Linked DNA regions of Homo sapiens: all the other regions are linked to region 1. Evidence: fine-mapped expression QTL. A gene starts in region 1. Each other region holds a variant in brackets. All regions are shown on one strand. Distances are from middle to middle.

The links. PIP is the estimated chance that this variant, and not a neighbour inherited with it, causes the effect. A credible set is the group of variants that fine-mapping cannot tell apart.
Region 2: its variant is the best candidate, but not a certain one, in a credible set for the expression of CPLX1 in whole blood (TOPMed, PIP 0.50).
Region 3: its variant is the best candidate, but not a certain one, in a credible set for the expression of CPLX1 in whole blood (TOPMed, PIP 0.86).

The regions. Positions count from the first base shown.
Region 1 is chr4:820,752-831,444 of GRCh38, reverse strand. It overlaps CPLX1 (complexin 1), which reads left to right and starts at 5,316. Exons shown (of 4, transcript NM_006651.4): 1 at 5,316-5,399; 2 at 6,844-6,953. The coding sequence starts at 6,923. RefSeq lists enhancers at 455-970, 971-1,488 and a silencer at 5,297-5,346.
Region 2 is chr4:784,539-789,630 of GRCh38, reverse strand. CPLX1 (complexin 1) reads left to right here. Exons shown (of 4, transcript NM_006651.4): 4 at 2,933-4,674. The coding sequence ends at 3,130. It overlaps LOC105374339 (a long non-coding RNA gene), which reads right to left and starts at 1,857. Exons shown (of 4, transcript XR_925032.4): 1 at 1,765-1,857; 2 at 274-1,668. RefSeq lists enhancers at 1-168, 675-1,174, 1,175-1,676, 3,649-4,520. The variant G/A (reference allele first, on the strand shown) is at 2,594.
Region 3 is chr4:759,750-764,749 of GRCh38, reverse strand. PCGF3 (polycomb group ring finger 3) reads right to left here. Exons shown (of 11, transcript NM_006315.7): 9 at 3,334-3,471. It overlaps LOC124900163 (chloride intracellular channel protein 6-like), which reads left to right. Exons shown (of 2, transcript XM_047416474.1): 2 at 2,010-5,000. The coding sequence starts at 4,703. PCGF3-AS1 (PCGF3 antisense RNA 1) reads left to right here. Exons shown (of 3, transcript NR_171661.1): 3 at 141-4,307. Among named protein-coding and RNA genes, the nearest start is that of PCGF3-AS1, 20 kb to the left of the region's middle. The variant C/G (reference allele first, on the strand shown) is at 2,267.

The DNA.
Region 1 (10,693 bases):
TTCCTGAAGCTTCCTGGAGGCAGCTCAGAGAGAGGCCACACAGGGCCAGGCTGCCCACTCCACACGTGTGTCCCTGGCCCAGCAGGAGCCCCTGAGCAGGGGGAGCTGAGACCCAGGAAGCCTTGGTTTGCAACGCACAACTTCTGTGCTGTGAACACCCCTGTCTGCTGGCCTCCAGCTGCCCAGGCACCTTCCCTGGAACTGGACACCCTCCCTCTGCTGGGCGCCGCTATGCTGTCTACACTGCTGGGGTGACTGCCCTGTCCTGCAGCACTGCCTTGGCGCCCACTGCCCTGTGAGACGGTGCTGCCCTCCCGCACCTTCCCAGGCCCACCCCACCCTAAGATGCCCCTGCTCTGCCCTCCAGGGACAGCCCCAGGGACTCACTTCCGCCACTGTGCCCCCACCACACCCATGGACACAAAGTCCGACAGTCAGGAGGTCAAGCCCTAGGGGACACAGAGAAGGCCACAGCCCGGCTGAGCCGTGCACGCCCTTTCCCTAAGTGAGCACCAGGGCTGCCGGAGGGGTCCCGTGCTCCTGGGGAGCCAAAATAGCTCCTCCTCCCACTTCCTGGGCATGAAATGCTCCCAAAAATACCCACATGCATGTGATGTGGCCTCACTCCAGGTGTCACTGGAGGAGAGGGAGGGAGGGAAGGGGCATTCGGCGTTCTGAGCCTGGCTTCAACCCAGCTCTCCCTGCCCTCTGCCCCCCGCCTACCCCTTCCGGCTCCATCACACGGCACTCAAGACCCTAAGGAGCATCTGAGGCTCTGGGTCCCAGGAGTGCAGGTGTTTGGCCCAGGATCCTCCCGGGAAACTTCTCCTCCCCACGACTGGCAGCTCCCAGGATCTCTTGCCCATCTCCAAATTCCAGCACCACCCACTGTGCTCACCACCCAGCCAGCCACACCCCTGGGCCAGCCCTGCCTCTCCCAGACGAGCTGTCTCTCACCCTGTCCTCCGGGAAGGCCCCTGAAGCCCCTCCTTCCTGCCCTGAGGTGTTGAGGCTGGGAGGGCGGAGTCCCTCGAGCAGCTGCAGCCCACAGCAAGGCCCCTTTCCTCCACAGCCTCTGGGTTTGTCCACCCCAAGCCCACTCCCCACGGGCGGCTCTTTTGTTGCCCTGGGTCCCTGGTGGATCAGGGTCCCCGGCTGAAGGAGGCCAGATCCACACCCCACACTCAGCGCAGGGCTGGAGCCGGTGGCTCCCCCTGAAGCTGGAGGGCCCTGGCCTGGCGGGTGGGCTGCCCGGGACCTGGCCTTGCCCAGCTCAGAGGCTCCCTCCAGCCAGGGGTGAGTGCCGCTGACCCGGCTACCTGGTGCTGCTGACTGCATGGTTGGGACCATGCTGGGCCGCAAGAGATCAGCTCAGAGCGGGCCCCATGTGTGCCCTGGGGCACCATGAGATCTGGGCACCGTGTGACCGGGCAGCCGTGGATCCCAGGACCCCAGGGCAGGGCCTGGGGCACAAGCATTCGCTCAGCTGCGGCAGTACCTCTGCTCTGCTCCCAGGGGCCCACTAGGCTGACCTCCCAGGCGCTGGCTTCCCCCGGCTAGATGCTGGACCTCTCTCACCCAGTGGAGGAGGGGAACGGGTTCAGGGCGCTTCCCAGGCGAGGACACCCTCCACTCAGCCCAGGTCCTGCCCCAGCTCTGGCAAACGGCAAGGGTCTACATCTTGCTTTGCTCACGCTTTTCACGTGTTGTTACTTTTGGAATATCAAAATCCAGCAGGAAAATGACAGCGTGGATGGTGTCGGCACTCAGACTGAATCACTCAGCACATGTAACTATTAAGTTTGTGTTTGAAGGTTCTGGGTGGGTGCTGTGGGCCGGATCCACACATGCGGTGTGGCAGAGCGCTGCCCTCCTGCTGGGCCCATGGGGGACATGGCCCCCTGGCCACACCCCACGCCAGGACTGAAGGCCAACCCCAGGAAACCCTGACAGTGCTTCCCAGACCCTTTCCTGGCCCAAGGCAAGGAGGATGCCTGGCACCCAGGAGGGCTATGGGCAGATGGGACCCAGAAGATGGGAGCAGGGTGGCAGTGGAGGCCTTGGCAGGGGCTTCCAGAGAGGCTAGAGCTGGAGGTTGCAGCAGGGCAGCTGCCTCCTTTCCCTGCTGTCTGGAGTGACCCCGCAGGGTCTCAAACCCAGTGCCACATGGTCCTCACACAGTCCTGCTTTGTGCTCCTGGGGTCCCTGGCCTCACTGGGGCTGGGGATGGAGCATCTGAGGAGCAGAGGGCTGGCTGGGCCGGGGGTACCATCCATGTCCAACCGGCTGGCACAGGCCCCACAGCCAGGGCTCGGCCCAGCCAAGCACTCACACTTCTCCAAGCTGACCTCTGGGGGAGCCCTCGTTGGAGCTCCATCCTGCTCCTCCCGGACTTGCTCCACACCCCACCTCCTCCTTCTCCCAACATCCGCCTGGACGGGGTGGCCTCCAACTCTTCCCCGGCCTGCAAAATGTTTTCCCTGCCTGGATCTTCAACCTGGCCTTCAACCTGCTGGCCCCTTTCTCACTCAGCTCCTGCCCCTTTCCAGCCGGCTGGAGGTCTGCGGGGCTTCTTCTCCAGGGCTCAGGGCCTCCTCTGGGCACTCGAAGGGCCAACCGCACCTGCCCTGGTGTGGCCAAGTGGCCCGTGGGGGTTGGCAGAGGCCTTTTGCCGCGTCACCACCTTCTGCCACTGGAACGGAGCCTGGGTGGCTCCTGGCCAGCAGCCTGTGACTCCCATCCCAGCTGGGCAGCCCTGGCCTGGCTCACACACCCTGAGTGGGCACCACCCTGAAGCCCTCCAGCAGATGCCCACTTTCCCTTCCCCTGGCCCAGCTCACACACCCTGAGTGGGCACCACCCTCAACTCCTCCAGCAGATGCCCACTTTCCCTTCCCTAGGCCACTTGTCACTCTGACCTGGGGCTGTCACCAACCTTGTCTATTTCCCCCAAGTTGTGGCTGGGCCCCCCCACCCCCAGGTTAGGGCCTAGACAAGTGTGAGAGCTGAGAAGCAGTCACTGCATGTGTGGCTGGATGTAACAAGTAACAACAGGGACAGGCAGAGACAGAGAGAGACGGACACAGAGAGACAGAGACAGACACAGAGACAGAGAGATACAGCGACAGAGAAAGAAAAGACAGAAAGACAGAGACAGAGATAGAAAGAGACAGAGAGACAAAAAGACACAGAGACAGATACAGTGACAGAGAAAGACAGAGACAGAAAGATAGAGACAGAGAGACGGGCAGAAAGACACAGTGACAGAGAGATACAGCGACGGAGAAAGAGACAGAGAGAGAGGCAGAGGAAGACAGGGCAGAACGTGAGGGCTGGCAGAGGGTCTCTGTCCTCTGTGCCCCAGGCCCCAGCTCCAGGTGTGCTTGGAGCTCAGGCTGGCCTGGGTTGTAGAACGGGGAGGGGTCAGCCTAGGAGTCCAGTGCTTCTGCTCGGAAGAACGGGCACCTCCCTGCACTCCTGTGCAGACTGTCCCAAAGGCACCAGCATATCCCTTGCATGCAGCTTGTGGAGGTGGCAGGGTCAGTCATGAGCCTGGCTCTGGGCTCAGGGGGTCACCCCTGGGGTCCTCTCTGGGGTTACTGTCCGGGTTAGCTGTTGGGTTATCCACCCAGTTAGGGATGGAGAGAGAAAGCACCAGGGCCGAGAAGTGACCTCTTTCTTGGACCCGAACATCTCACCCTTGCTGTCCCCTCCCAGGTCCTGAGGAGACTAGAGGAGCAGATGGAGCAGAGCAGGCTGGGGCTCAGGCCGGGCCCCCAGGCATGTGTCCTGCCTCCTGTCCCTGGGCCCAACGTTCTGAGCCCACTTGGCTCAGATCCCGGGAGAGAGGAAGGGACGGTGCTGGGGGTGCCCATGGCTTCCAGCCAGGGAGGCTGAAGAGACCCCAATCCTAGGGCATGGGTCCCCCTCTGGGAGGTTGCCTGTGAACCCCCAGGCCCACGGGACCCTCATGGCTGTCTCAGGGAGCCCCCATGGGCTTGGCCCTGGTGCCTTCACCCTTCCCTCTCCCCCAGCGCTCCCTTCCTCTGCGAAGGGTCCCCTGCCAAGTCAGCAGAAGAGTGGGGACGGGGGCAGAGGCGCTGGGGCCAAGGCTGGGAGTCCAGGCCTCTGAGTCCTCCTGAGCTCAGGCTAAACACGGGGCACCGGAGGGGATGGGGCTGAGGGCGGGGGAGGGGCCGCATCTTCCCTGCGCCAGGGGAGTCCCCAGGACTCAGCAGGGAGGGGACAGTGACAAGTTAGTGCGGCGGCCACCGGCAGCGGCCCCCCTCCCCCCTCCCCACCCCCACCCCGCCAGGAGCACAGGGCAGCTCTAGGGTCGCGGTGCGCCCCATCCCTCCCGCCGCCTGGCTCCCGACACTGCACAGCGCGAACCGCAGGGCCGACCTTGCGGCGACCCCGCTCTCCCGCAGTGCCGCGTCCGCTGCAGAGGAAATCCCGGGGGCCAGGGGAGGGAGCGGTGGGGTCTCTGGCCTTCGTCCCGGTAAAGGAAACAGCGACTCCGTTACACCGAAAGTGAGCCCGGGCCGGCCTGCGGGTCTCTGGCTGCGAGGGGCTTGCGTGGGTTTTCAGGGGTCTGGGGGCCCCCTTCTCCCGCCCTGCGATACGGGGAGGTCGGGGCAGAGGGGTCGGGGCGGCGGGCGGCGCTCAGGGACACGGTCACCGGAGAATGGGGGCGGCAGCGACTCCCAACCCCTGGCCCCTCCGCTCGGGAGGCAGCGACTTCTCCGCCCGAGGGTTTTGCACCCACCGGCCCCGCGCGGACCCTGTAGGGAGCAGGCCCGCACCGTCGGGCTGGGGGCGGGGGGGCAGAGCCGGGGGCGCCCAGATCAGGGGCGGGCGGGGGTCGCAGGCGCCCGCCGGGGGAAGGTCGAGCCCGGGCCGGGTTGGAGGGAGGCGGGGGCGCGTCACTCGGGTCCACCCCCGCCCCCGCCCCCGGGTCCACCCCCGCCCCCGCCCCGGGTCCACCCCCCGCCCCCGCCCCCGCCCCCCGCCCCCGCCCCCGGGTCCACCCCCGCCCCCGCCCCGGGTCCACCCCCCGCCCCCGCCCCGGGTCCGCCCCCCGCCCCCGCCCCCCGCCCCCGCCCCCGGGTCCACCCCCCGCCCCCGCCCCGGGTCCACCCCCCGCCCCCCGCCCCCGGGTCCGCCTCCGCCCCCGCCCCCGGGTCCACCCCCGCCCCCGCCCGGCGCCCGCGGCCCCGCCCCTCGGCGCTCCCCTCCCCGTGCTCGTCACGCTCGGACGCGGGCGGGGGGCGGGGAGCGCCTGCGAGTGACGCGCCCTCCTCGCGGTGCCCTTCAGCCGCCGCCGCAGCTCACCGGGCGCCACATGGACCCAGCCGGCCCGAGCGCGCCCCGCCGCTGACCGCCCGCGCCCCGGGAAGGTAACCGCGCCCCGAGCGCAGCGCGCGCCCGGCCTCCGCTCCCCGGGTCTCCCCTCCCGGCCCCGGCGTCTCCTCCCCGGCCCCCGCTTCTCCCCGCTTCTCCCGCCGGCCCCGGTTTCTCCTTCCCGGCCCCCCTTCTCCCCGCGGCCCCGGCTTCGCCCAGCTCCTCCCCCCGGCCTCCGCTCCCCGGGTCTCTCCTCCCCGGCTCCGGCTTCTCCCCCCGGCTCCGGCCTCTCCCTCCGGCCCCCGTTTCTCCCCCCGACCCCGGCTTCTCCCCGCAGCCCCCGTTTCTCTCCCGGGCTCCGCGCGCGCGGGGTCCGGGGCGGGCGCTGTCCACTGCCGCGGTGCTGAAGCGGCCCCCGCGGTCCCGGCCCGCGCCCGGCCTCCTCCTCGCTTCTTCCTGTCTCGAGGCTCCCCCTCTCCTCCCTCGCCCTCTTTCTTTCCTCTCCTGGCGCGCTCCCGCCTGAGGGCCGCTCGCCCGCCCGCAAAGCCGAGGGGTGCGGGTGCGGCGGGGCCGGAGCCCTGCGGGTCTGCGGGGCCCGGCCGTGCCCTCCTTCCCCGCGCCGCGGGAGCCAGGGGAGAAGTTTGGAGGAGAATCGGCGCTGCGGCAAAGCCTCCGAGGGGCGCTCCCCGCCCGCCGCCCTCCCAGTCCCCGCGCGAGTCTCCTTCCTCTGCGGAGGGCGAGGGGTGAACCGTCAAACAGTGTCTCTCCAGGGACCTGGGGTTCCCCGATAGGAGAGACCCCGCAAAACCGGGGGGCTCACTGCGGCTGCTGTGATTTCAGAAAGCGGCTTCCCAAGAGGGGACCAGAGCGCCCCACCCCACCCCATGCACGCCCCCGGGGCGGGGGTGCTCTGTCCCCGTCCCCACGTGTTTCCTGAAGGCTGAGCCCCCTGAAGTTTCTCCCCAACCCCGATCTCTTCTACGCGGGCCATGTGGGGGGCACACTGACTGCAGTGCCGTCAGGGATAGGGTCACCCAAGCCTCCCTGGTCAGAAGCCACAGGAGCCCGCCCTGAAGGGTACCCGCTCAAAGACCCACCCCCAACCCTTCTCCACGGCCCTGGGCTCGGGACCACCGCGGAGGCGCCGCTCCAGACACTGAGCTGCAGAGCGGAGCAGTCACCTTCAAACGCCCCCTGGGCCCCGCCCCTGCTTCCGCAGCCTGGCGCCAGGCGCCTCTGAGCGATGCCCCCTAAGCCATCAGCAGCCCTCCCTGCAGAGGCTTCAGACACCCCAGGAGCTGGGGAGACCATTTTCAGGTCCTCTGGGGTCCTGGTTTGGGTGTGGGGACAGAAGCCCCTCACGAAGGACTTCCCAGGCAGCCGCTCCAGGTGGGGGAGGGTCCAGCCCACAAGGTATTGCGGGTAAGGAATGATGGTCTCTGGGGAAGGCCAGGCAGGGGCCTGCTTAGGGTGACCTGTGACCACTTCACTCTCCCCCAGGAAGAACACTCGCTCCCGGCCATACTTGCGTGTGAGTTCTGACCCCTGGAGGAGCCACTGTGGAAGCAGAGCAATCGCCATGGAGTTTGTGATGAAGCAGGCTCTAGGAGGTAGGAAGCGGGAGGTGGGGTGGGGAGGGGCTGAGGGGACATGGAGAGACCACCACAGCAGCTGCTCCTCATCTGGCCCACCGCAGCAGCGCCCCTGCAGCCACACGGCCACCCACGCAGCCCTGCACAGGAGCCTGGGGCAGAGGAGCAAGGACCGTGCCCAGCAGCGCCCCCAGCCCGGCCCTTTTCGAGGCCCCGAGCCAGAACTGGTGTTCCTGGCGGGACAGGGGCTGCCCTGTAAGCTCACTCTGCCCCACTGCTGTGGTCGGGGCAGAGCCCATGGACCATGCTGATGCACGTCCTGGGGGAGGGTGCACACTCTGGCGTAGGCTTTACAGGGCCAATTCTAACTGGCCAGGCTGGGCAGCCCCCAAGGGGGCTTCCTTCCAGATGAGGAGAGCCAAGCGGTGGGAGAGCAGGATGCAGGTGGCAGCCTCAGGGACAGGCGTGGGGACAGAGCTGGCCTGTGCATCTGGCGAGGACCCTGTGGGTTTCACTTGGGTGAGGCAGCGCCATCCTCAGGGACCAGGGCTTGCTGGTTACGGGAGCGAAGGAAAAGGCCCGAAACAGCTTGTGTGTCTCGACTGCCTCCCAGGCGGGACGTGCAGCCTTTTTTGTGTGTACTGGGGTGGGGCCAGGCCCCCTTCCAACCTGCTGTCTGCTATTTGAAAGGAACCTCGTCCCCACTTGACCCAAGGCTGTCATTGTGGCCAGAGACCATGTCAAGAGCAGTGGCTGGGTTCCTAGACCAGGAGGTGGGCAGGGCCTGGGCCATGCTGGTACAGACGTGTCCCGGCAGAGCTGATGGGTCAACTCAGGCCTCGGGGCTGTCGTGGCGAGTCTCAGTTTTGCCCAGAGCCGTCCATCCTGTGTTCCCCCAGCACCAGTGCCCAGAACTCCTGTGAGGGGAACCTGTGGCCGGTGCCCGATTCTACCACTAGAGACGTCTTGCTTGGGTGGCCTCCACGGGGGAGCACCCTCACCTGATGCCATTCACACCTTGGAGTGAGTCAGGCCTCCTGGGAGCATTTCTGCAGTGGGGGAGCTGGCCGGGTTCGAGGGGCCAGGGACAAGGGTGTACAGAGGGCAGGCGCCGCTTCCCCCAGGGCAGGAGCTGCCTGCCTGGCTGTCTCCCGGAGGGTGGCTGTGCTTCCACTCAACACAAATTAAATGAAAAGATATTGAGCCTGTCCTGGGGCCACATCCCTGAGATTTCGTGGTCAAGGGTAAGAGTCAGGTTGAGTCTAATTATAATGGCTGCGTCACCGGGCTGTGATTCAGGGACAAGCCTGCATCTGCGCTGGGAGGGACGCACGTTCCACCCAGGGAGTCCCAGGCTGTTACGGATAATTAATTAGTTGGCTAATTCAGGCCCTGAGGTGGGCTTGTAAGAAACTGAAATATCTTATTTGGCTGTCTACATGACTGAAATTAGCTGGGTAATTACCAGCCTGAATTCCCTTTTTGTTTCATGGCAGCCCAAAGTTTCTCCAGCAGCAGCAACCGGGCAGGCGTCGCTCAGCGTGGTGGAGCTGAGCGGGGGCAGCCAGCAGACCCTGGGGGGGCTCCACGCTGAGTGCTTCCCAGAGCACCCCACATTGGCTTTGCAGAGCACGTTGAGGCTCGGAGCCAGAGCTGCTGAGGGCGGGAGCTGGTGGGGGGCTTCCAGTCGAGACCTTGTTTTCTGCCTCTGCGCCTCTGTCCCTCACCCGGCGAGCCTCATTGTTGCTGTCTCAGGATGCGTGTGAGTGAGACAGAGCAAGACAGAGATGGGAAATGGGGGAACCTCCAGACAGCACGACAGAGCTTGGCAGAGACCCCAAGAGAACTATTGAGAAACAGACCAAGCCCCGGACACAAAGAAGCTGGCAGGAGAGGGAGCAGGAGGCACCCAGGAAGCCGTTCAAAGAAAGGCGAACCCAGAAACAGGGTCGGGGAGGGGGAGCTGGAGAAAGAAAATGACAGCCCAGAAACAGACAGAGAAAAAGACAAGAATGTGTTATTCAGCACGCACAGGGACAGACAGGTGAAAACAGAGACGGCACGTCAGAGACAGAGGCAGAGGGGAGAGAGAGAAAGAGGGAGAGACGGAGACAGAGATAGAGGGAGACACAGAGACAGAGGGAGACAGAGACAGGGAGAAACAGAGACAGGGAGAGATGGGAGCAGAGGGAGAGACAGAGGGATACAGAGAGACAGACAGACAAAGGAAGAGGGCAGAGAGAGGCAGAGGGAGAGGTGGAGGCAGAAGGAGAGAGAGAGACAGAGAGAGTTAGAGAGATAGAGATGGAGACAGAGACAGAGGGAGAGACAGAGATGGGGAGAGACGGAGAATCAGAAACAGAGGGAGAGACAGTGGTGAGAGGGAGAGACAGAGACAGAGGGAGAGACAGAGACAGAGGGAGAGACAGTGGGGAGAGAGACGCATTAGAAATGAACTGCTAAGAGGAGTCAGGGCCAGGAGCGCAGGCAGCATGGCACATGCACACGTGCACGCCCGTCAGAGGGTGCAGCAGAGAGGAGGAAGAGGTGAGGACCTGCCCAGGGCTCTGGGCAGGGGGACAGGCCTGGTTAAATCAAGACCATTCGGGGGCTGTCCGCGGCAGGCTGGGCCGCAGGTGTGAGTCTTGCTGAGGAGTGAGTGGCCCAGGGCCTGCTCATCTGACCCAACGCTGGGTCTCAAGGAGGGGCCCCTGTTGGGGCCACCAAGGGAAGGGAGCATGGTGGCTGCCGGGGTGATCGCTCGTGGGGGAGCGGGAGGCTCCTCTGCAGCAAAAGTGGCCTTGAACTGGGGCCGGGCCTCCCCCCACAACACGTGGGTCCGGATCCAGGGTCCTCAAGGGAGTAATTTAAAGAAACTGGTTTCCTCAGGCCAGAAAGTTGCAAACACGGCCTGGGAGCTCTGTGGACAGCGTGGAGGAACGTGGCACGTGTGGGTGCCGTGGTCACTGCAGACCCTCATGGGGCTAAATGTGGCAGAAGCGAGCAGCCACCCGCTCTCCCATCCTCCGCCTTGATGTGACACACGCCCTGTTTAAACACGCTCAGGTCCTCGGGAATGTGTGGGGCAGGCGGGCCGGGGCTTCAGGTGGGACACGGCTTGGAGGATGCATGTGCGGAGAGGCTGGGGTGCAGAGTGGGAGGCAGCCGGACACTCAGGAGAGCCTCTGACTGCCCCAGCGACAGAGCCCAAGGCAGGACTCACCCATGCTCGGCTCTGCCACGTGTGGGGAGGTCTAGCGGGCAGGTCCAGTGACTCCGGTGGTTCAGTCACGATGGACAGTGTCCGGCAGTGAATGCCCCTCACCCAGCCAGGCCCAACCTGGGGGGCGACAGCCTGGCCTGGGTTCAGTGGAGAAGCTGTCCTTGTCCCCGGAGAGTGGTACGCTGTTGGGTTCTGTGTCCAGTCCTACATGGGGAGGGAAGCAGGTGAACATCTGGGGAGAACACACCGTAGGGGTGCGGTCCTGGGTTTGGCGTGAGGGGGAGGATTGTGGTCATCCAAGCCGGGGTGGACGAGAAGTGTCTCGTGGACGGCCCAGGCAGGAAGTGCAGGGTTCCACCGTGTGGGAGAGCCCCTCCGCGCCCCCGTGGGGCTGGGCTGTGAGTTCTCGGCAGGAACAACCCAAGGGGCTTGTGGGGGCCACCGGTGTCCACCTTGGGGGTTCACGCGAGGCTGGTGAGGGGTGTCCACCTTGGGGGTTCACGTGAGGCTGGTGAGGGGTGTCCACCTTGGGGGT
Region 2 (5,092 bases), 39 kb after region 1:
CCCGCCCTTGTCCTGCATAAGCTTCCAGCCACCCATGTTGGGCAGCCCACACCTGGGCCTTCCTGCACGGGCCTTCTGAGGGCCCACTAGGCTCCCTCAATACATTGCATCCCCCTACCCCCCGCAGCTCCCACAGCGGCTAGGAGGTGTCCACCTGGTTGCTGAATGCTGGCTGTTTGGTCCTATCATTCCTATTGTTGGTTCTCAGCATTGATTAGCACCCACTGCCCTTTTTTCTCACGAATACCGTGTTTTCAGGGTTCAGGGTCTCACCTCAGACGTGTCAGGGCCTCCTGGGCGCCCCCAGCAGCCACTCCCATCCTCAGGTGTTACTTCCTGGAGAGCTGCTGCCCAGCATCACGGTGGGCCTGGGGCTGGGTGTGCCTGGGCGTTTGTCTCTGGAGCAGACGCCTCAGAACTGGGTCTCAGCCAGACCACGTGGAAGCCAGGCTCTGGTGTGCAGCCCAGCCCCGGAGCCTGTTTTCCCGGCAGAGTGACCCTGGCCCTCAGGCCAAGTCCGGCGTGACCTCAGCCTCAGAATGACCTGGAGCCTCACTGCAGCAACTGGCACTTCAGGCCAAGCTCCGAGTGTCCCACAACCTGGTGGCAGGGCCTGGGGTCTCCTTCCTGGGCCCAGAAGGAAGGATCCCACACCGTTTGCAGACAGGGTCCCACAAGCCCCAAGGGTCACTCCCCTGACCTGGGAGGTTCCTTTGCTCACACAACTCATGTTCCGCCGTTACAGGCATGCTCCTCTGAGCACACACATGTTCCTGAGTGCTTTTGCTGTGGGCAGCACAGCCTCCTGGGCTGGATACACATGTTGCCGCCACATGCACAGACCCCCACACCCCTGGCTGGAGGGAGGCTCTCTGGCCGGACCTAGCTTCCAGTGGCATCGCTCTCCCCAGCACACCCCTGGCCCCACAGGACGAAGAGCACATGCTCCCTCCACTTCCGTGCCTGGAGCTGCTGCCCTTCCCGCTGTGGATGGCTAGGACGAGAACCAATCTGCTCTTGCTGCCCCACAGGGTCAGGGCTTTGTTCTGGGCCTGCAGGGCCCTCTGGGTGTCGCCCCTGTTGTGCGGAGAACGTTCCTACCCTGTGCTCTTCGTTTCACTGAGGAGACCCCTGGAGTCCCGGCTCTGTCAAGAGTGCGCAGGGGCTGCTGAGGACTAGGGCGAGCCCACGGCCCCTCTCTCCTCAGTGGCCAGGTGGTGGTCTGGCCACAGGCGGCTGGGAACGTGGCGCCCTCCTTTCCATCTCACTGAAGGTGGCCCTGGCCCCCCACACCCAGAGCCACCTGCAGCCCTAGGGGAGGGGAGAGGTGCCGAGACTGCCCTCGGTGGGGTTGGGGAGCACACAGGCAGCCCCCCCTCCATTTGGGAGGAAGGAGGGGCCTCCTTGGAGATCCAGGGGGTGCCCAGCACCAGGAGCAGAACCAACTGCTTCTATGGGGAGGGGCTGCTGAGACAGGAGCAGGAGATGGCAGGGGAGGGGCTCCTCCTGGGCAGAAAGGCCCCTCCCTGTGGCTGGTGATCCCGCGGTGTGCTCCTCCGTCCTGTAGAGTGCTGGTGCCCACTCCCCTCCTAAGTTTTCTCCTGGACGCAGCTGCTGACGCCTTCACTACTCCAGAGCACCTGTAATCTCAGATCCAGGACCTTGGACCTGGCCCGGGGGTCCTGTTCAGGGGATGGAAGTCCAGCTCCGTACAACACCAGGCCCCCAATCCTTCCAGGCCAGCCCAACCCCACTGGTTCCCACCTTCCTGGGCAGCAGGAGGCTGTTCCGTAGTTCCGTGGCCTGACCATGACCACAGGCTTCCTGGGCTGGTGGCTCACGGGAGGGCTGGAGGAGTGTGGCGTGGGGAGGCGTATTGATCTAGAAACCAAAACCCCGGGGCCTGACAAAAACTTAGAGGCCTGGAGGGCAGAAGAACAAAATCCCACACTCCCTCTGGAGGCTCTGGGGGAGGGCCCTTCCCTGCCCCTTCCTGCGTCTGGCGGCCCCGAATCCCTGGTGTTTCTTGACCACTCGCGACCTCCTCCGCTTTCGTATGCCCGCCCCCATCCGGGTGTCTGTCCTTTCTGTCTCTTACAAGGACACTCTCACTGGACTTGAGGCCCCTCAAATCCAGGATGGCCTCGTCCCCATCCTTACCATTATGAGATCAACAAAGACCTGTTTCCGAATGAGATCACCTTTGAAGCTCCAGGCAATATGAATTTGAGGGGGACAATATTCAGCTACTACGGAGGGCAGACGCACTCACGGGAGATGAGAAACGCGGGTGGGCAGGGGGTCGGTGAGGCCCAGGCATACTGGCTGAGGGCACGACTAGGCGGGATTCCAGGACACCCAGTGCCTGGAAGTGACCGCAGCCCAGGACCCTCTGCCGGCTGCCCACGGAGCTGCAGCGGCCTGCCAGGGAGTGGCCCTGCTGGGGCCGCGGCCGCATCCAGGCAGCCTTGGCCAGGCCCGGGAGTGTGAATGCAGGTCGTGGACCAGGCACTGGGCAGGAGGGTCAGCTGCGGGTTGACTGTTTCTCCCCACCTCTGCCACGCAGCATCCTGCCCACCCCTCCCTGCCCCGG[G/A]CCGGAGGCTTCCTGGAAGGCAGGATGCCAGGGGCTGGGCTGGGTTTGGAGCCAGAGGTGGGGCCACAGCCCTCTCTCCTCTCAAGGAAGATGGGAGCCTCCCCCTCCCTGCTCCCCCCCATGTCAGCTCCTGGCCCCCATTCTCCGTGGGGGCTTCCCATTCCTCCAGGGACCCCCCGGGGTGGGGTCTCTTCTCCTTCTGGGGTCCTTGTGTGCCTGGTGGGGTAGGGGGCCGCACCCACGCCTTCGGGGGTTCCTGGGCCAGTCCCTGGCGCAGGGAGGCTGCGGCCCGCCCGGGAGCCGCCGGGACCCCCGCCCTGACCCCCGCCTCCCCCGCAGTACGGCATCAAGAAGAAGGAGGAGCGCGAGGCCGAGGCCCAGGCCGCCATGGAGGCCAACTCCGAGGGGAGCTTGACGCGGCCCAAGAAGGCCATCCCGCCGGGCTGCGGGGACGAGGTGGAGGAGGAGGACGAGAGCATCCTGGACACCGTCATCAAGTACCTGCCCGGGCCGCTGCAGGACATGCTCAAGAAGTAGCCGCGCGCGGGACAGCGGCCCCGCGGAGCCCCCGCCCCTCCCCCTACAGATCCTCCGCGGAGGCCCCTGAGGGACGAGCAGAGCGCAGCCCCCACGCCGATATAAGCCATAGCCCCAGGCCCGCCCTGCCCGCGCCCGCCGCCTCCCTCACCCGGCAAGGGGCGCGCGCCCCCAGGACCCCCCCAGTCCGCCCCGTGCTCCTCTGCCCGCGGGTGGCTGGAGCCCCATCGCCTGGGACGCCCCTTTCTCTTGCTGTTTACCGCCCACCCAGCAGCGCCCGAGGCCAGGGCCGCCGAAGGGCAGCCCCGCGACCACCCCTGTGCGCGCGTTCGCGGCGGTGGGCGCCTGTCGGGCCCGCACTCAGGAGCACAGCCATAGCAGACGGGGGGCTGCGGGCGGGGCGAGGGCGGCGGGGCCTGGGTCCCCCTCCTGCACGCGGACTCCGGGGTTCGGATCGCTCCGCCGTGAGTATTTGCGTCCGCACGCGGCCGCTCTCCGCCCCCCGGCCTGGCCCCCTCGCGCCCCTGTCCATCCGTCTCTGTCCGCGTCCTTTCCTCTCCTCTCTGGAAGGTTTTGCTTCTTACGAACGCCACGGCCGTGTTCACTTCTAAACTAAAGGAAACAAAGCAATAGGTTTGGGGGACGCCCAGCCCCCACCCCCGTCACCCCGCTCTTCCCAAGTCCTCGCCCCCCGCCCGGCCTCCTAGCCTCTCCGCCCACGCGGCTGCTGCTTCTCCCTGGGGAGGACCCCTGCCCTCGGCCATTGAACACTGCACCCTCCACAGGAGCCGCAGAGGCCCGAGGCACCGGACGCTGGAGACCCTGCGCCCCTGCCCAGCACCTCCTCCGTGGGCAGCTCCTCGGGTGGGGCCTGCGGGGTTCCCTGCGCGCAGCTGGCGCGTGTGTGGCCTAATCCACCTGGTGGCCCTGCGGGGCGGCATCCGAGCCCCTGTTTCTCCTCCATTCATGTTTAATTTGCATCACAATTTGTTGAATCTCAGGTAAATGAGGTCTTTGCATTTAATGAGTTTTATCTTGACAGGCGCCGCCTCGCCCCCGGGCCCTTTCGTCCACATCAAAAATGCATCAAGTCTCCACGTGTTTCGGGCCAGGGCGTGGCTTGGCATTGACCTTCATGACCTTACATAGCTTTAGAGAAGCCATAACGTTAGACTGCAATACTAACGACCGACGCCCCTCCGGGCAGAGACCACCGCGCCCCTCTGCGCCCCAGCGACGCGGCCCGCGGGGACGTCGCTGTCCGTCCTGCTCGCCCTGTGCCCTCTCACTGACTTCTCCCGGGTCGTGTCTTTTAAAAACTCCTGTTTTCACACCTTACAAAGCCAGCTCTGAGCAGACAGGGCGTCCTCTCGTAGAACCTGCGCACCCCGTTCCCAGCGCATGGCGCCCCGGGCCGCGAGCTTAGCTTAGACCGTGGTGTCCTCTGTCCGTCTGTCCTGCGCCTGCGCCTCCTCCTGCATGTCGGGGCCCCTGCGTGTGTTCTCTCCGGATGGAATCACAGCCAATAAACACCAGTGATTTCACACCGTGTGGCCATTCCTTCCAGAGGTCCATTTCGCCAGCCGGAGGACCGGGGCTTTCCCCCGCGCATGTTCTCTCCACGGCGGCTGCAGGGCCTCCCACCATTCTCACTCAGCTCCATCCAGTCAGACCCATTTTCCCTAGGCCGTCCAGCCAGCGCAACCTCCATCTAAACACAAACCTGCGCCTTCAGGGTCTCCCGCCCCCCAGGGTGGTTCTTCCACCCGCAAAGCATCTGCCCTCTGCTCTCCCTCCCACCTAGGACCCCCGACCACAGGCCTGTCCCTCTCCTCAGCTCCACCGGGCCCAGGGCCCCAGGTCACCCTGTGCTGCCCTTACCTCGGCCCACCCAGGAATTCCTGCCCCCCAGCACCCCCGTGGGACTGTCCCTCCTCCTGAGTCCTGGACCCGGATCCCTGC
Region 3 (5,000 bases), 64 kb after region 1:
TACAGGGCAGGCCCGTGCCAGTTAGGGGGATGACGTTTCTGCAGGGGGTGCAGGCGCAGGCACAAGCTCCTTGCAGTGGTGGGCTCCCATCCCGCCCCTATCTGGCCTGCAGCTGCCCTGAACCCTTTTTCTCTTGACAGGCCCCATCACACCCTGTCTACCACACCTGCCGTACTGAGCAACGGGAAGAGGTGGTTTGCAGCCCCATGAGCAGCCCTGACAGCTCCGGAATCGGGCACCCTGGTTCCCCAGGTGGCACAGGTGCCTGAGAGGCCCATAGGGCCGAAGTGTTTCCCTCCCCATCCCACCCAGGCCCAGTCCACACCAGCCCCCTCCCACGGCTGCAGCCTCCAGGGGCACCCTCTCCCCACAGGCCCTACCTCCGGTCCAGGCTGTCCCTCCCTCTCACCATAGTGCAAAAATGCACTAGGCTCCCCAGTCTTTTAAAAAAATTAGACTTTTTAAAGAACAATTTAAGGTTTACAGCAAAATTGAGAGGAAGGTACAGGGAGTTCCCGTCCCCCTTGGAACCCCCCTGCCACCAACACCCTGCATGGGGGCACATTAGTCACCACCCAGGAACCTGCACTGACATCACCTCCACCGAGTCCAGAGCGGATGTCAGGTCGCCCTGGTGGCACAGCCACAGGTGGACAAACAGCAGCATCGCCGCCCAGGAGCCCTGTGCCCGCCCACTCCTACTACCCTCCTCAAGCCCCTGCAGCCTCCGGATGGTTCTGCCTTTTCCAGTGCGCCATGCTGCAGAGCTGGAGTCGCACGGCCTACAGCCTTTTCAGAGGGGCTTCTCTACTTAGTAACAGGGACTTGATGTTTCTCCCATGTGCCTGCTCTTGGCCCGACTGCTCATTTCTTTTCAGTACTGGATAATAGTCCAGTATGGATGCACCACGGTTTATTTTTCCACTTATCTACTGAAGGGCATCTTGGTCGCTTCCAGGTTTTGGTAATTATGAAGAAAGATGCTATCAACATCCGGGTGCAGGTTTTTGTGTGGGCAGGAGATTTCCAGTGGGTAAATGACGAGGTGTGGCTGCTGGGTGGTTTGCCGAGAGTGTGTTTCGTGTTGTCAGCAGCTGCCAAGCTGTTCTCCACAGGGCCTGCGGGTTCCACTTCCCACAGGAATGAACCTGCGCTCCCGGCGTTTCCCGAATGTGTTGTCAGTGCTTGGGATTCTGGCCCTTCTATGGGGTACGCGTGGTGCCACGCAGTTTTCCTTGCGTTTCCCTGATCATGTAGACAGTTCTTCAGATTCCTCCCTGGGGAAGGCATGAATTGAAGCAGCCCCACCTGCCTGAGTGGCTGGGTTGGGGGCTCAGAGGCACGGTTAACGCAGCAGCAGCGCAAACCTCACACTCTTCCCTGGAGGAACCAGCCCTGCGCTGGGAAATGGCCAACCTCTTCCCCACCCCCTGCAGCCCCACTGTCCGGCAGCTTCCCGCTACACCTCCACATGAAAATCCAAGGACTTCCTCGGCCTGCTCTGTCCCCAGCTACCATCCATCTTTTCTGTTTCGCTACACAGAAAAGCAAACAAAACGATAGAAACTTAGCAAAAAGCGTTGCCCCATTTCCTTCTCTCCCTTCCCCCCGTGTCCTGACTTGGTTTCTCCATGATCTCCAGGCAGCCCGTGCTCAGTGAGTCTCCCCAACCCCGGTGTGCTGTCCGTATCCCCGGCCAACCTGTGGGACACTCAAGGCTGGCATTGGCCCCCCATGACCTGACAGCCTCTGCTCTGTGCCACCACAGCAGCTACGCCAGCCTGTCCCGAGACACCACCCCCCACCCCAAACCGAGCAGCCCCAGGCCTGCAGTCATTCCTGACCCCTTCCTTTTCTCTGCATCACCACCCAAATACATCAGCAACTTATTGTGGCTTTCTCTGAATTAGTCTCCTGCGGCTGCCGTGGAAATTATCACGAGGTGGTGTCTTCAAACAATAGAAATGTACTCAGTTCCAGAGTCCATAACAGCCACACTCCCTCTGCAGGCTCCAGGGGAGAAGCACAGTCCATTCCGTGCTGCTGCCACAGAACACCACACACTGGGTGATTTATGAAGAACAAATTGATTTCGGCACAGTTCTGGGAGCTGGGACATTCAAGGTCACCACGTTGCCACCTGTGAAGGCCTTCTGCTGCATCCTCATGTTGGGGAAGATCAGAAGTGAGAACACATGCTGGCCAGTCCTTTCACAGCAGCATCAATCCGTGCATGGGGCAGGGCCCTCGGCCTGAGCGCCTCCCC[C/G]AGGCCCTAACTCCCAGCACTGCCCTGCTGGGGATGGAATTTCCAACATGAATCTGGGGGATGCTTTCGGACCACAGCCGGGGAGCCTGCCCTGGCTTCCAGCTGCTGGTGGCCCAGGGGCTCCCTGGCTTGCCTCGAGGCTGCCTCCCTCCAGCCTCCAGTCCGTCCTCTGCTCTGTCCTCACCAGGGCCTCCTGTCTCGAGTCTTCCTCCGCCTCACTTGTGTCATGGGATTTAGGCTCCACCCAGATATTCCAGAATTATTTCATCCCAAAATCCTTTATTTAATTATATCTACAAAGATCCTTTTCCAAACAAGATCCCATTTGCAGGCTCTGGGGGTTAGGATGTGGCTTATCTTCTGGGGCCACCACTGAGTCCACTGCTGCTACAGACAGCATCTCAAGTCTGTCCACTTCTCCACCCTGACCGCCCCCACCACAGTCCGCCTCTCCTGCAACTCCTGGCGCTGGCCTCTCCTGCGTCCATTTCTGCACAGCCTGAGCGATTTTCAAAAACGACACCAGACCCATGCTCCTGCCCACAGCCGCCAGCGCCTTCTGTCTCCATGCAAAGCTGGACCCTGCTGGCGCCTGCATCCCCATGGTGTCACTGCCTTGGGGGCTCACAGGGACCCACACTGGCATGTTCATGGTGCGCCCGCTGCCAAGGCCGCCTCATGCCAGCACTCCTTCGTCTCCTTACACACCACAGCCTGGAAGGGTCCTCCCTCTCTGCATCCGCCCATGTCTCCCCTTGTGAAATTAAAGCACAGAATTTCTCGTTTTGAGGAAAACCTTTATCCTATTTTAAAACAGTCTCATCATCCCCGCCCTAGTTCTCTCTTCCACTCACAGTAGCATTCCACGTTCCCTGTCTCTGGGCATCCTACAACCCTTAGGGCTGTCTCCTATCCCGCTCCCCGGTGAAGCAGGCAAAACGGATTTTTTTCTGGTTAAAATCTCCAAAATTGTTAAAAACAAAACAAAACTAAGCAAAGAATCTTGGAGTTACCTTTAGAAATAAGAGAGGACTTGTTATGGTTTCTACTTAGGGATCAACTGTTACCTCGTTAAAGGATGAAAGGTTGAGTTTTTTGGCGATGAACTTCTTCAGATGCAAGACGGTCGCCTGGGCTGAGCAGCGGATCCACTTCCGCTTCAGCCCGCGCAGTTTGCTGCTGTTACACTCCAGGCAGATGCTCACCTGCGGGAAAGGACGCTGGTGAGAGCGCAGCAGGAGGGTTCCCCCGGACGGTTCTGGAGGCTTCCTTAGACATATTTCACTAATTCCTCAATCTAGGACTGCTGACCTTTTTGAGATCAGACATCTGCTTTGACTTCAACACTGCAGAAAAAGAATCTTACATACCTTATCTGAAAACCTGTTTATCGTCTGCTTGCCATTTTGTGAACTATAACCTCACCCTGTTAATTCTGTGTTATTAACATAATAGTTGAGAGTTAATCCCACAGTTACTTATCCATCGCAGGCACTGGGTTCTTGGTCTCCAGCTAAGCCTGTCCGGACAAACATGGCGCAAAGGGGAGTGGGCGGCCCCGTGTCTGCGAATGCACTCGGGGAGACAGCAGCGACTGCAGGAAGACAGTAGGGAGAAGCCTTGAGCAGGGCCACAGGCGGAAGGTCACAGCTGCCTTCCAGGTGACCAGCAGTTTGGCCGCAGGATAAAAAGTGACTGTTAAGGGGACTGTGGAGTCCCAGCAGCCACGGGCTCCCTGCCCGGTGCGAAAAGGAATCTGCCCAGGACGAGGCTTCACCCAAGGGCCCGGCCGGCTTGGCCCCCAAGATGTGCCTGACAAGGAAGGGCGACGCTCACGGCAAACGCTTCTACAGGTGGAGCCGCAACAAACGGCACAGTTAGGGCCTAAAAATGCAGTGGAAGAATGGACAGGGGGTTAACTGAAACATGTATGTCTAAAATTACAAAAGATACAAAAGGGAGGACACCAGGGGTACAGACGGGCAAGTATTGAAGGTAATCAGATACAATTTCTAAAAATAAAAACACTCACGGAAACTAACATCTCAGTGGATGGCTGAACCACAGATTCTTCTCAGCCGAGGACAGATTAATGTCCTAAAAAAAAATTCACTTGAGGAAGTTACCCATCAGGAGTAGAGATAAACACACCAATTCAAACAATAAAAGGAAGGCTAAGAGAAAGGGGAGAAGACGGGAGCCCCAAAGGGAAGAACAGAAAGGAAAGGAAGTGTTAAGAAACAGTGACTAAGGATCTCCCACAACAGTGAAGGGCAGTCCTCAGATTCAGGAAGCAAAAGAATCCAAAATACAAGAAATACCCACTCCGACACGGTGCAGTCACTGAGCACAGCCCATTAAAGGCCCCGCAAGAGCCACTGGGGAGATAAGTGGATTCTGTGCAAAAAGCAAGAGACATCCTTGCTCCGGGGTGGGATGGAGCGAGGCCGCCTGCAAGCATCACAGGAGAGGGACAATGTGAGCGGGAAGAAGATCCGGGAGTCTGGAGAGAGAACTCGGGAGAGAGGCCGTGGGGAGAAAGACCCGGAGTCCGGAAGGAGAAGAACTCGGGAGAGGGGCCGCGCGGGGAGAAAGACCCGGAGTCCGGAAGGAGAACAACTCGGGAGAGGGGCCGCGCGGGGAGAAAGACCCGGAGTCCGGAAGGAGAACAACTCGGGAGAGGGGCCGCGCGGGGAGAAAGACCCGGAGTCCGGAAGGAGAAGAACTCGGGAGA